3 linked regions of the Homo sapiens genome follow. The protein of the gene in region 3 interacts with the protein of the main gene of each other region in a pairwise test. Each region holds a gene or a part of one and is shown on either strand. Other genes may lie near its edges.

Region 1 (3,748 bases), on a different chromosome or scaffold from region 3:
AACCATTTCCATTTTGTAATAGAACTCTTCGGGGACTGCCCTCCCCGTTAGAGCTTTTCCAAGATCTCTGAAGACATCATGAGTTTTTCAGGTTTCAAGATTATTTTATGTCCTTCAGTCACAGGGGGAGCTTCAGCTAGTGTTCCATCGTAAGCTAGTAAGTGCCTCTCAAATGGAAACTTTATAGTCTAAAGGCCCAGTTCCCTGGAGGTGCTCACAGCCTTTTGCCATTAGCCCTAGGCAGTGCTCCACACAGGGCACAGAGAATGTGTGTTACCTGCAGTCTGGTTTCTAGTCTACACTGTGTAGTCCACCCTCCAGGGCCAAGGGGCCTGGAGTGCTCTAAAGACTTTCCTGCAGGCCCTCGTGGCTCTGTGTTAATGCTGTCAGTCTTCCTGAAGTCCTGTCCTCTCACCTCCTGCCTAGATCTGCCCCCAGCACACATTCCTGACTCCACACATTTCTCAGTGCCTGCGACCTGGCACACATTTCTGATCCGAACTCAGTGCCTGGGGCCTGGCAGGTGCCCAGGGCACTCCATTGCTCAAATCCAAGCCTGTGGAGAGGATGACATATCATTCCCAGGTTTCTGATGAGCAGAAAAAAAAATCTTTGTTTCTATAGTGCTATCCTCTTTTATCCACCATGTGAGAGGTCAGGAGCCGACTCACCCCAAGGGTCTAGGAGTTGTGCCATTGACCTTACTGCCTAGGGTCACAGGCTGGCACCCTTCAGTACCACACATTGGATCTCTCCACACAGCAGCAGTGTGCTTAACTCAATGGGGAGGTGAGTAGCCCAAGGTCAGATAGTTGGACCTGGATAGACACTTGACTGGGGGACAGGCTTTGGAAGCCACTCCCCTGGGCCTCCTCTGTCCATGGGGCCTCAATACTAGAGCCCACAAGGTCGGCCAGAGAGTGTCTGTGCCTCGACCATGCAAAGGGTGCCAGGTTGTGGCTAGGGATGCCCCCGGGGTTCCTCTCCCTCCTACCTACTCCTCAGCCTCTGCATGTGCCCGTCATGGCCCCTGTGTCCTTCATTCTGTCCACTCATGTGTTCACTGGGCCCCTCCTTGGTGCCAGGCACCCGCTACTGAGGGATACCAAGCCCCTGCCAGAGAAGCTTGGAGCTGGGTCACAGCAGCAAGGAGGCTGGAGACATCAGTGGCATCAGTGCACTGGTCAGTGAGGCCGCTGTGGGAGGAGGGAGTGGGAGCAGAAGCTAAGAGTGGACTGAAGTCCTTAGGCCAGGAGGTAGTTCAGGGTTTAAGAAGAGGAGAGACAGGCGTCCCGGGGAGGGAGCAGGCTCAGGATGGGCCTCCAGTGCCTCCTCTGGAGCTCACTACCCAGACTACAGCAGCGCAGTGGGCAGCGCCTCAGCTCCTTCCCCTTCTGCTGCCTACAGCCTGGACAGGACCCGGAATCAAACCGCAGGCCCTGGGTCACCGCTGCCGGAAAGAGCCAGTTCCTGTCCGTCCATGCACCCACCACCAAAACCCAGGCCTTCCTGGAGGTGCTAGGGGAGGCCATGCCCCTTTTCTGAGTGCTTGGAAGTGACTGCTGCAAGTGACAAGTGACCACGCCTTTTCCCCCGCGGGTATAAATTCAGAGGCGCTGCGCTCCGATTCTGGCAGTGCAGCTGTGGGAACCTCTCCACGCGCACGAACTCAGCCAACGATTTCTGATAGATTTTTGGGAGTTTGACCAGAGATGCAAGGGGTGAAGGAGCGCTTCCTACCGTTAGGGAACTCTGGGGACAGAGCGCCCCGGCCGCCTGATGGCCGAGGCAGGGTGCGACCCAGGACCCAGGACGGCGTCGGGAACCATACCATGGCCCGGATCCCCAAGACCCTAAAGTTCGTCGTCGTCATCGTCGCGGTCCTGCTGCCAGTGAGTCCCGGCCGCGGTCCCTGGCTGGGGAAGAGCGCACCTGGCGCCGGGAGGGGGCAGGGAGACGGGGACACGGCAGGGATGCCTGGCCCTGGTCACCTGCGGCCGGGCATGTCCGGGCAGGACGAACTCGCCGTCGGAGTCAGGGGAAGAACTGGGTCCCCGGGCTGGGCAGGAGGGACCCGGCCGCGAGGGAGCAGAGAGGCGGTCCCCCTGGCTGCCCCGAGCCCGCGAAGGGAGGGAAGTTCCAGAATCGAGAGAGGGAGGGAGTCAAGGTGGAACCCATAGAGTGAGCCTCCTGAAGACACAGAGCGGTTGCCTCTCTCATTAATTAATTAATTAGTTAATAAAATTAACCCCATGTTTACATTCTTAAACGTGTTCCTTGGAGATCGGTTTAACCAACAGCCAGTGAAAAAACTTTTCAGCGCTGTCTTTAGCAACTTTCACCTCCTCTGTCCTGAAAGTGGCAGGAAGCCGGAATGTGGCAGGAAGCGGTTAACCAAGGTGCTGCCTTGGTTAATGTCTTCCACTACCACCCGTGTGTCCCCTCTGTATCCCATAGGCAGGACCGGGGCTGGCCCCTTCCTTCAGCATAAACGGTGTAAAGTTGTTGTGAGTTGGCTTTGGAAACTGAGATTGGTAGTAGTGTGAGTGCAAGGACATATTATGTATAAAATATGCAGACTTCTAGGTCTCTTTCAGATTGATTGAGGTTTTTGCTAACAGCCCTTTTTAAGATTCTTTATGTAATACAAAAAAAAGAAAAAAGAAAAAGAAAAGGCCAAAGCAAGGTTACAGAAACCATGAGAGTTTGCATGTTGTCTTTCTACAAATTAATGCTAAATTCAGAAAAGCAGTAACATTTTCACCTCTCAAAAATTACACAACTGACTTTTAAAATAGTTTATAGTGGGTGGACTTACCTGAGGCAGCTAGAAGAATGGCTGTGTCAGGACAGTGGCCCTGAAGAGAGAATGCATGGATGACCAGTGTAGACAAGGCCAGCAACATCAGTTTCACGGTTTTGGGAATGTGAACTCTATGCGTCCCAAAGGAGGCTTTAATCCCTCCATCAGTCTTGCCTTATTAAATGCATTTAAATGTACAATCACTTTGTTAAATTTTGGAGCTAACACAAATCACATTAGATGTTTTATGGCAGTACATTCAGATTGATCTTCTTTTAAACAAGGGTATTGTATTTTACTGCATGGGTAAGCCACATTTTAATTCACTGTTGCCGCCTAGGGGCAGCTGGTTAGATCCCATCCTGACGGCCTTTGCTAATTCCAACAGCATTGTACTAAATACCCTTGTATGTATCGTGTGTCCACATATCCATGCACACCAGCTTATTGGGCAACTCCTTACAAGTTGAATTCTACTTCTCCTTCTGTGGGATAAATGACTTCAGAAGTTTCTTTAAATGTTCACGAATTTTCCTCCAAAAAACCACTGAACCCAGCTTACAGTCACACCTAGTCCACAAATGTGCCTGTGTCCCTACACCTTTGCTACACTTAGCTTTCATTCTTTACTAGTCTAAGATGTAAAACATAACACATCACATTGCTATGTATTTTTGTTTCCTCATGGTATTAGGAATTTTCAAGGATATAGGAGTTTTTTGGTACTGGGAGTAGACCAGGGTATCCAGATGAGACAGCAGGGAAGACTGAATTCTGAGCTGTGCACTTGGAAAACCCTGGTCAGTTGGGGCCAGTCCCTGCCACCCACCATGCCTGTGAATGGAGATAAGGTCTCCATCCTCAGCCTGTCAGGGTGACTTCAGATGAGCCTGGAGCTGAGTTCAGTTCCTGACCCCAGGTCCTGGCTCTGTCAATGCTGGGCTG
Region 2 (3,748 bases), on a different chromosome or scaffold from region 3:
TTGCCAGGGCTTTTGAGGAAAAGGGAATGACAAGTTAGGGGACAGAGTTTCAGTTTTGAAAGATGAAAAAGTTCTAGAGATGAATGGTGATGACAGTTCATTAAGTGAATTACTTAATGCCACAGAACTGTATGCTTAAAAACGGTTAAAATAGTAAATATATGTTATATATATTTACCACAATAAAAATTTATTGACTATATATGTGTGGCTCTATTTCTGGACTCTATGTGTCTTTCTTACATCAATACCATAGTAATCACTATCCTGAGTACTACGACTTTATAGTAAGTTGTGAGGTAGTGTAGTGTATATCCTTCAACTTTGCACTGCCTTTTGAAAGTTCTTTTGGCTATTGGAGGCTCTAAGCATTTTCATATAAATTTTAGAATCATCTTGTCAGTTTCCAGCAAGCCTGCTAGAATTTTGGTTGAGATTATATTGAACCTATAGATGAATTTGGGGATAATTAACATCTTAACAATATTTGGTTTTCTGACCCATGAGCATAGTATATCTTTTTATTTATTTGGGTACTTAATTTCTCTCAGCAGTGTTTTGTAGTTTTCAGTGTCCAGATGTTGTATTTTTTTCTTTGTCAAATTGATCCTTAAGTATTTTCTTTTATTTTTTATTATTATACTTTAAGTTCTAGGGTACATGTGCACAGTGTGCAGGTTTGTTACATATGTATGCATGTGCCATGTTGGTGTGCTGCACCAGTTAACTCATCATTTACATTAGATATATCTCCTAATGCTATCCCTCCTCCCTCCCCCCACCCCATGACAGGACCCGGTGTGTGATGTTCCCCACCCTGTGTCCAAGTGTTCTCATTGTTCAGTTCCCACCTATGAGTGAGAACATGCGGTGTTTGGTTGTCTGTCTTTGCGATAGTTTGCTCAGAATGATGGTTTCCAGCTTCATCCATGTCCCTACAAAGGACATGAACTCATCCTTTTTTATGGCTGCGTAGTATTCCATGGTGTATATGTGCCACATTTTCTTAATCCAGTCTGTCACTGATGGACATTTGGGTTGGTTCCAAGTCTTTGCTATTGTGAATAGTGCCACAATAAACATATGTGTGCATGTGTCTTTATAGCAGCATGATTTATAATCCGTTGTGGGAAGTCAGCGACCCCGAATGGAGGGACTGGCTGAAGCCATGGCAGAAGAGCATAAATTGTGAAGATTTCATGGACATTTATTGGTTCCCCAATTTAATACTTTTATAATTTCTTACACCTGTCTTTATTGCAATCTCTGAACATAAATTGTGAAGATTTCATGGACATTTATCACTTCCCCAGTCAATACTCTTGTGATTTCCTGTGCCTGTCTTTACTTTAATCTCTTAATCCCGTCATCTTCGTAAGCTGAGGATGTATGTCGCCTCAGGACCCTGTGATGATTGCATTAACTGCACAAATTGTTTGTAAAGCATGTGTGTTTAAACAATATGAAATCTGGTCACCTTGAAAAAAGAACAGGATAACAGCGATGTTCAGGGAACAAGGGAGATAACCATTAGGTCTGACTGCCTGAAAGCTGGGCAGAACAGAGCCATATTTCTCTTCTTACAAAAGCAAATAGGAGAAATATCACTGAATTCTTTTTCTCAGCAAGGAACAGTCCTGAGAAAGAGAATGCATTCCTAGGGGAGGTTTCTAAAATGGCTGCTCTGGGAATGTGTGTCTTATATGTTGCAGATAAGGGATGAAATAAGCCCTGGTCTCCCAGGCCTATTAGAACGAGGAAATTCCTGCCCAGTAAATTTTAGTCAGACCAGTTGTCTGCTCTCAAACCCTGTCTCCTGATAAGATGTTATCAATGACAGTGCGTGCCCGAAACTTCATTAGCAATTTTAATTTTGCCCCAGTCGTGTGATCTTGCTCTGCCCCCATTTGCCTTGTGATATTTTATTGCCTTGTGAAGCATGTGATCTCTATAATCCACACCCTATTAGTACACTCCCTCCCCTTTGAAAATCACAACAAAATCTTGCTGGTTTTGCGGCGTAGGGGGGCATCACAGAACCTGCCGACACGTGATGTCTCCCCCAGACACACAGTTTTAAAATTTCTCTCTTTTGTAGTCTTTCCCTTTATTACTCAGACCAGCCGACACTTAGGGAAAATAGAAAAGGTCCTATGTTGAATTATCGGGGGTGGTTCCCTTGATATAATCCTTTGGGTATATGCCCAGTAATGGGATGGCTGGGTCAAATGGTATTTCTAGTTCTAGATCCCTGAGGAATCGCACACTGACTTCCACAATGGTTGAACTAGTTTACACTCCCATCAACAGTGTAAAAGCGTTCCTGTTTCTCCACATCCTCTCCAGCACCTGTTGTTTCCTGACTTTTTAATGATCGCCATTCTAACTGGTGTGAGATGGTATCTTATTGTGGTTTTGATTTGCATTTCTCTGATGGTCAGTGATGATGAGCATTTTTTCATGTGTCTGTTGGCTGCATAAATGTCTTCTTTTGAGAAGTGTCTGTTCATATCCTTCGCCCACTTTTTGATGGGGTTGTTTGATTTTTTCTTGTAAATTTCTTTACGTTCTTTGTAGATTCTGGATACTAGCCCTTTGTCAGATGGGTAGATTGTAAAAATTTTCTCCCATTCTGTAGGTTGCCTGTTCACTCTGATGGTAGTTTCTTTTGCTGTGCAGAAGCTCTTTAGTTTAATGAGATCCCATTTGTCAATTTTGGCTTTTGTTGACATTGCTTTTGGTGTTTTATTCATGAAATCCTTGCCCATGCCTATGTCCTGAATGATATTGCCTAGGTTTTCTTCTAGGGTTTTTATGGTTTTAGGTTTAACATTTAAGTCTTTAATCCATCTTGAATTAATTTTTGTATAAGGTGTAAGGAAGGGATCCAGTTTCAGCTTTCTACATATGGCTAGCCAGTTTTCCCAGCACCATTTATTAAATAGGGATTCCTTTCCCTATTTCTTGTTTTTGTCAGGTTTGTCAAAGATCAGATGGTTGTAGATGTCTGGTATTATTTCTGAGGGCACTATTCTGTTCCATTGGTCTATATCTCTGTTTTGGTACCAGTACCATGCTGTTTTGGTTACTGTAGCCTTGTAGTATAGTTTGAAGTCAGGTAGCGTGACGCCTCCAACTTTGTTCTTTTGGCTTAGGATTGTCTTGGCAATGTGGGCTCTTTTTTGGTTCCATATGAACTTTAAAGTAGTTTTTTCCAATTCTGTGAAGAAAGTCATTGGTAGCTTGATGGGGATGGCACTGAATCTATAAATTACCTTGGGCAGTATGGCCATTTTCACAATATTGATTCTTCCTATCCATGAGCATGGAATGTTCTTCCATTTGTTTGTGTCCTCTTTTATTTCGTTGAGCAGTGGTTTGTAGTTCTCCTTGAAGAGGTCCTTCACATCCATTGTAAGTTGGATGCCTAGGTATTTTATTCTCTTTGAAGCAATTGTGAATGGGAGTTCACTCATGATTTGGCTTTCTGTTTGTCTGTTATTGGTGTATAGGAATGCTTGTGATTTTTGCACATTGATTTTCATAATTTCTGATGCTACTAAAAATGACATTTCAGATGGTGTTTCAAAATTTTAAAATGTCATACTTATTGCTAGTATAAATATCATTTTGTAAATTAACCTTGTATTCTACAATCTTGCCAAACCCACTTAGTTTTAGTAGTGTTTTTATATATCCTACTGGATTTTCAACATAGAACAATTATGCTTTCTGCAAATAAAGACAG
Region 3 (3,748 bases):
CACATTGCCTCCCCAACGTCACATCACACCCCAGCTCGGCTGTATCAGCCCCTCTAACCTTGCCCATCAGGCCTCTGTTCACCTGTCTCCACCTCCAGGCCCTGCCAGCAAGGCGCTTCTCCCTTTCTCTGCCTGGTCTGTGCCACGTTGCCTGAACACACAGCCCACCCCATCCCCTCAGAGCACCAGGAGCTCACATCTGGGTCCAAGACCCTACCAGGAGAGCAAGGCAAGAGAATGACGCTAAGGCCCAGCATGAGCCTACACAGAGAAGGTGCCCACTGTCTGTCAAATTCATCCATTCAACAAGTATTTAGGCTGCTCATCGTGGCTCACGCTTATAATCCCAGCACTTTGGGAGGCCAAGGTGGGAGGATGGCTTGAACCCAGGAGTTCCGGACCAGCCTGGGCAACATAGTGAAACCCGTCTCTACAAAAAAATGCAAAAATGGCCGGGCGCGGTAGTTCCCACCTGTAATCCCGGCACTTTGGGAAGCCGAGGCAGGTGGATCACCTGAGGTCGGAAGTTCGAGACCAGCCTCACCAACATGTTGAAACACCGTCTCTACTAAAAATACAAAATTAGGCCGGGCGCGGTGGCTCACGCCTGTAATCCCAGCACTTTGGGAGGCCGAGGCGGGCGGATCACGAGGTCAGGAGATCGAGACCATCCTCGCTAACACGGTGAAACCCCGTCCCTACTGAAAATACAAAAAATTAGCCGGGCGCGGTGGGGTGCCTGTAGTGCCAGCTACTCGGGAGGCTGAGAATGGCGTGAACCCTGGAGGCGGAGCTTGCATTGAGCCGAAATGGCGCCACTGCATTCCAGCCTGGGGGACAGGGCGAGACTCTGTCTCAAAAAAAAAAAAAAAAAAAAAAAAAAAAAGATTAGCTGGTTAGCCAGATGTGGTGGCACATGCCTGTAATTTCGGGAGGCTGAGGCAGGAGGATCTGTTGAACCCTGGAGGCGGAGTTTGCGGTGAGCCGAGATCGCGTCAATGCATACCAGCCTGGGCAACAAGAGCGAAACTGCGTCTCAAAAAAAAAAACAATTAGCCGGACGTGGTGGCATGTGCCCAGCTACTCAGGAGGTTGAGGCAGGAGGAACACTTGAGCCTGGGAGGTTGAGGCTAAAGTGAGCTGTGATCAGGCTCCTGCATTCCAGTCTGGGCAAGAGTGAGACCCTGCTTTACCAAAAAAAAAAAAAAAAAAAAAGGTATTTATTGAGCACCTACTATATGCTAGGCTCTGTGTGGCTAGGCTCTGGGGATGTACGGGACTTCAAACCAGATAGGGCCTTGCCCTCCGGGAGCGCACAGTCCACTGGGATGGGGTGGGAGTGGGGGAAACACGCAGGAGGCCTTCAGCTAAGTGGGACAAAGATCACTCCACAGTGGGACAATGGCGTGGGGAGCGGAGGCGCCGCCGGCGAGGAGGCTCCGGGCGGGCCGTGCTGAGACCGCAGCATTTAACCCGGCCCGAGGCAGCTGGGAACAGTGCTGCCCAGGGAACTACAAATTCAAAGGCCCGGGGAAGGGCCGCGCTGAGCAGCTGCAGGCACAGGCCCAGGCCAGGCCAGGCAGGACCGGCCCCTGCAGTCTCGGAGGCCGGGGGAAGATTCCGCCTCTTATTCTCGCTCCCATCCGGGGGGCGCCATCTTGCTTCCTTTATGGCGGCGAACGAGGCCCAGAGAGGCCACCGTCCCGCGCGGGGCAGCACAGCGGCGGGAGAGCTCGGAGCGCAGAGGGCCGCATCCCCAGTTCCCAGTCTCCATCCCCGGCAGAAGCAGGCGGAGCGACCCGGTCCCCGCCCCCGCGCCCGCCCCGCCCCGCGCGCCCGCCTGGCCCCTCGGCCCCGCCCCTGCTCCGGAGTGACGCGGGCCCGGGCGCGACGGTCTCGGCGGCGGCGGCGGCGGCGACAGAGCGAGCGCGGCGCGGGGCCACCATGGGGGCCCAGCTCAGCACGGTAGGCGGGGAGGGGGCGCCGGGGCCGCGGGGCGTCGCGAGGGACTGGGACCCGGCGGCGAGGGGGCGGGCTGGCCTGCGGGAGGTGACGCGGGACCCGGGCCGCACCCGGCCGCACCCACTTCGCCCGCCCAGCCCGCCGCGCCCCACCCCACCCCACAAGGGCCTGGGCGAGCTACGTGGTGACCGCTACTTACGCCCTGGCAGTCTGCAGCGGGGACCCAGCCCTCCTGCCCGGGGGGCGCGCCAGAGCCCAGCACCCGGGGGCACCTGGGCCCTGCCCTGGCCGCCGTGGGGCCTTGGCTGCTGGAGGGACCCGTGGTTGTGAGCGTGTGTGCCGCTGAGTGTGAGTGTGTGAGCGAGCGTGTGAATGGCTTGAGAGTGAATGTGTGTGTGAGTGTGACCGTGGGTGTGAAGGGCGGGCATGGAAACGTGTGATGGGGTGTGTGTGTGTGTACGGGAGTATGTGAATGGGCGATGTCACTGACTGCGACTGAACGTGTGTGTGTGTGCGATGTCACTATGTCAGAGGGTTTTGCACGTTTAGCAACAAGGAACAGAACCCGGATGACACGGGGGCATCCTCCCAATGCTCAGTGGGCCAGGCTCCCATCAAGGCCAGGCTCCCACTGACCCTGCAAGCTGTGCTGGGGACCTCACACTTTGCGGTGTCAGTGCTGTTTGCCCCATTTCACAGATGGGGAAATGCAAACTAGTCTTGGCCACCGTCCCACAACGCTGCCGCCGGAAGGAGCCTGCTCCATGGGGTTTCAAAGTCCACTCTGCTGCTGTCACTCCTGGGCTGGCCTAGAGCCACCTTCCCTTCCCCCCAGGCCACCTCCTCTCCCCAGTTTCTCAAAAGTTGACCATGGTGAGGCTGGAGGCTTGAGTCTGTGTGGACATGTGGAGGCTGCGGCTGCAGAGGGCAGCTCTCCTGTCAACTGTGACCCGCTAGGCGTGGGGAGGCTGGCACAGGAGGAATCAGCCCAGTGCTCCTCCACCTCCACCTCTACCTCTATGCCTGGCATCTGCCACTTGGAGGGCACCTGGGTCCTCCCTCCTTGGGGAGGACCTGGAGTCTCCTCCTTGGGGATCCAGGCAAAAGGCCTCTTGGCTTGGGTGGTTGCTAAGGAAAGTGTGGCCCAACCCAGAACTTCGGGATGTTCAGACCCCAGGCAACCTTGGCCAGGGTGAACCTGTGGGCATCACCCCAACCTCCATGCAACACCCGGCCCATTTTTCCCCAGAAAGCATCTGCCTCCTTTATTGTTGAAATGTCCTGCCTGTGTCTCTAAAGCTTCCCCTGGTCTCCACCCAACCCTTCCCTGCTGTTTTTGGTGGTGTTCCATACCTTCCAGCTGGTGGTTGGATTTATGGCCACGTCCCCTGCACCTGGCTGCTCCATACATTTCTTTTTTCTTTTTTCTTTTTTGAGAAGAGTCTCTCACCCAGACAGTAGTGCAGTGGCGCGATCATAGCTCACTGCAGCCTCAACCTCTTGGGCACAAGTGATCCTTCTACCTCAGTGTCCTGAGTACAGGCACGTGCCAATATGCCTGGCTAAGTTTTTTTTTTTTGAGATGGAGTCTCTCTCTGTCACCCAGGTTGGAGTGCAGTGGCATGATCTCAGCTCACTGCAACCTCCACTTCCTGGGCTCCAGCAATTCTCCTGCCTCAGCCTCCCAAGTAGCTGGGATTACAGGCACTCGCCATCACACCTGGGCTTCGCCATCTTGGCCAAGCTGGTCCCGAACTCCTGACCTCAGATGATCCACCTGCCTCAG

The links.
Region 1: the proteins of CYB5R3 (region 3) and TNFRSF10C interact in binary tests that used the Homo sapiens proteins (3 or more experiments, as listed by UniProt).
Region 2: the proteins of CYB5R3 (region 3) and VAMP4 interact in binary tests that used the Homo sapiens proteins (3 or more experiments, as listed by UniProt).

What each region holds. Positions count from the first base shown.
Region 1 is NC_000008.11:23,101,290-23,105,037, forward strand, and holds the start of TNFRSF10C (tumor necrosis factor receptor superfamily member 10C precursor), read left to right. Parts: upstream 1-1,631; 5' UTR 1,632-1,832; coding exon 1,833-1,892; exon of another isoform or gene 1,893-2,269; intron 2,270-3,748. UniProt on the Homo sapiens protein: Receptor for the cytotoxic ligand TRAIL. Lacks a cytoplasmic death domain and hence is not capable of inducing apoptosis. May protect cells against TRAIL mediated apoptosis by competing with TRAIL-R1 and R2 for binding to the ligand.
Region 2 is NC_000001.11:171,721,361-171,725,108, reverse strand, and holds part of VAMP4 (vesicle-associated membrane protein 4), read left to right. Parts: intron 1-3,748. UniProt on the Homo sapiens protein: Involved in the pathway that functions to remove an inhibitor (probably synaptotagmin-4) of calcium-triggered exocytosis during the maturation of secretory granules.
Region 3 is NC_000022.11:42,647,512-42,651,259, reverse strand, and holds the start of CYB5R3 (NADH-cytochrome b5 reductase 3), read left to right. Parts: upstream 1-1,867; 5' UTR 1,868-1,944; coding exon 1,945-1,965; intron 1,966-3,748. UniProt on the Homo sapiens protein: Catalyzes the reduction of two molecules of cytochrome b5 using NADH as the electron donor.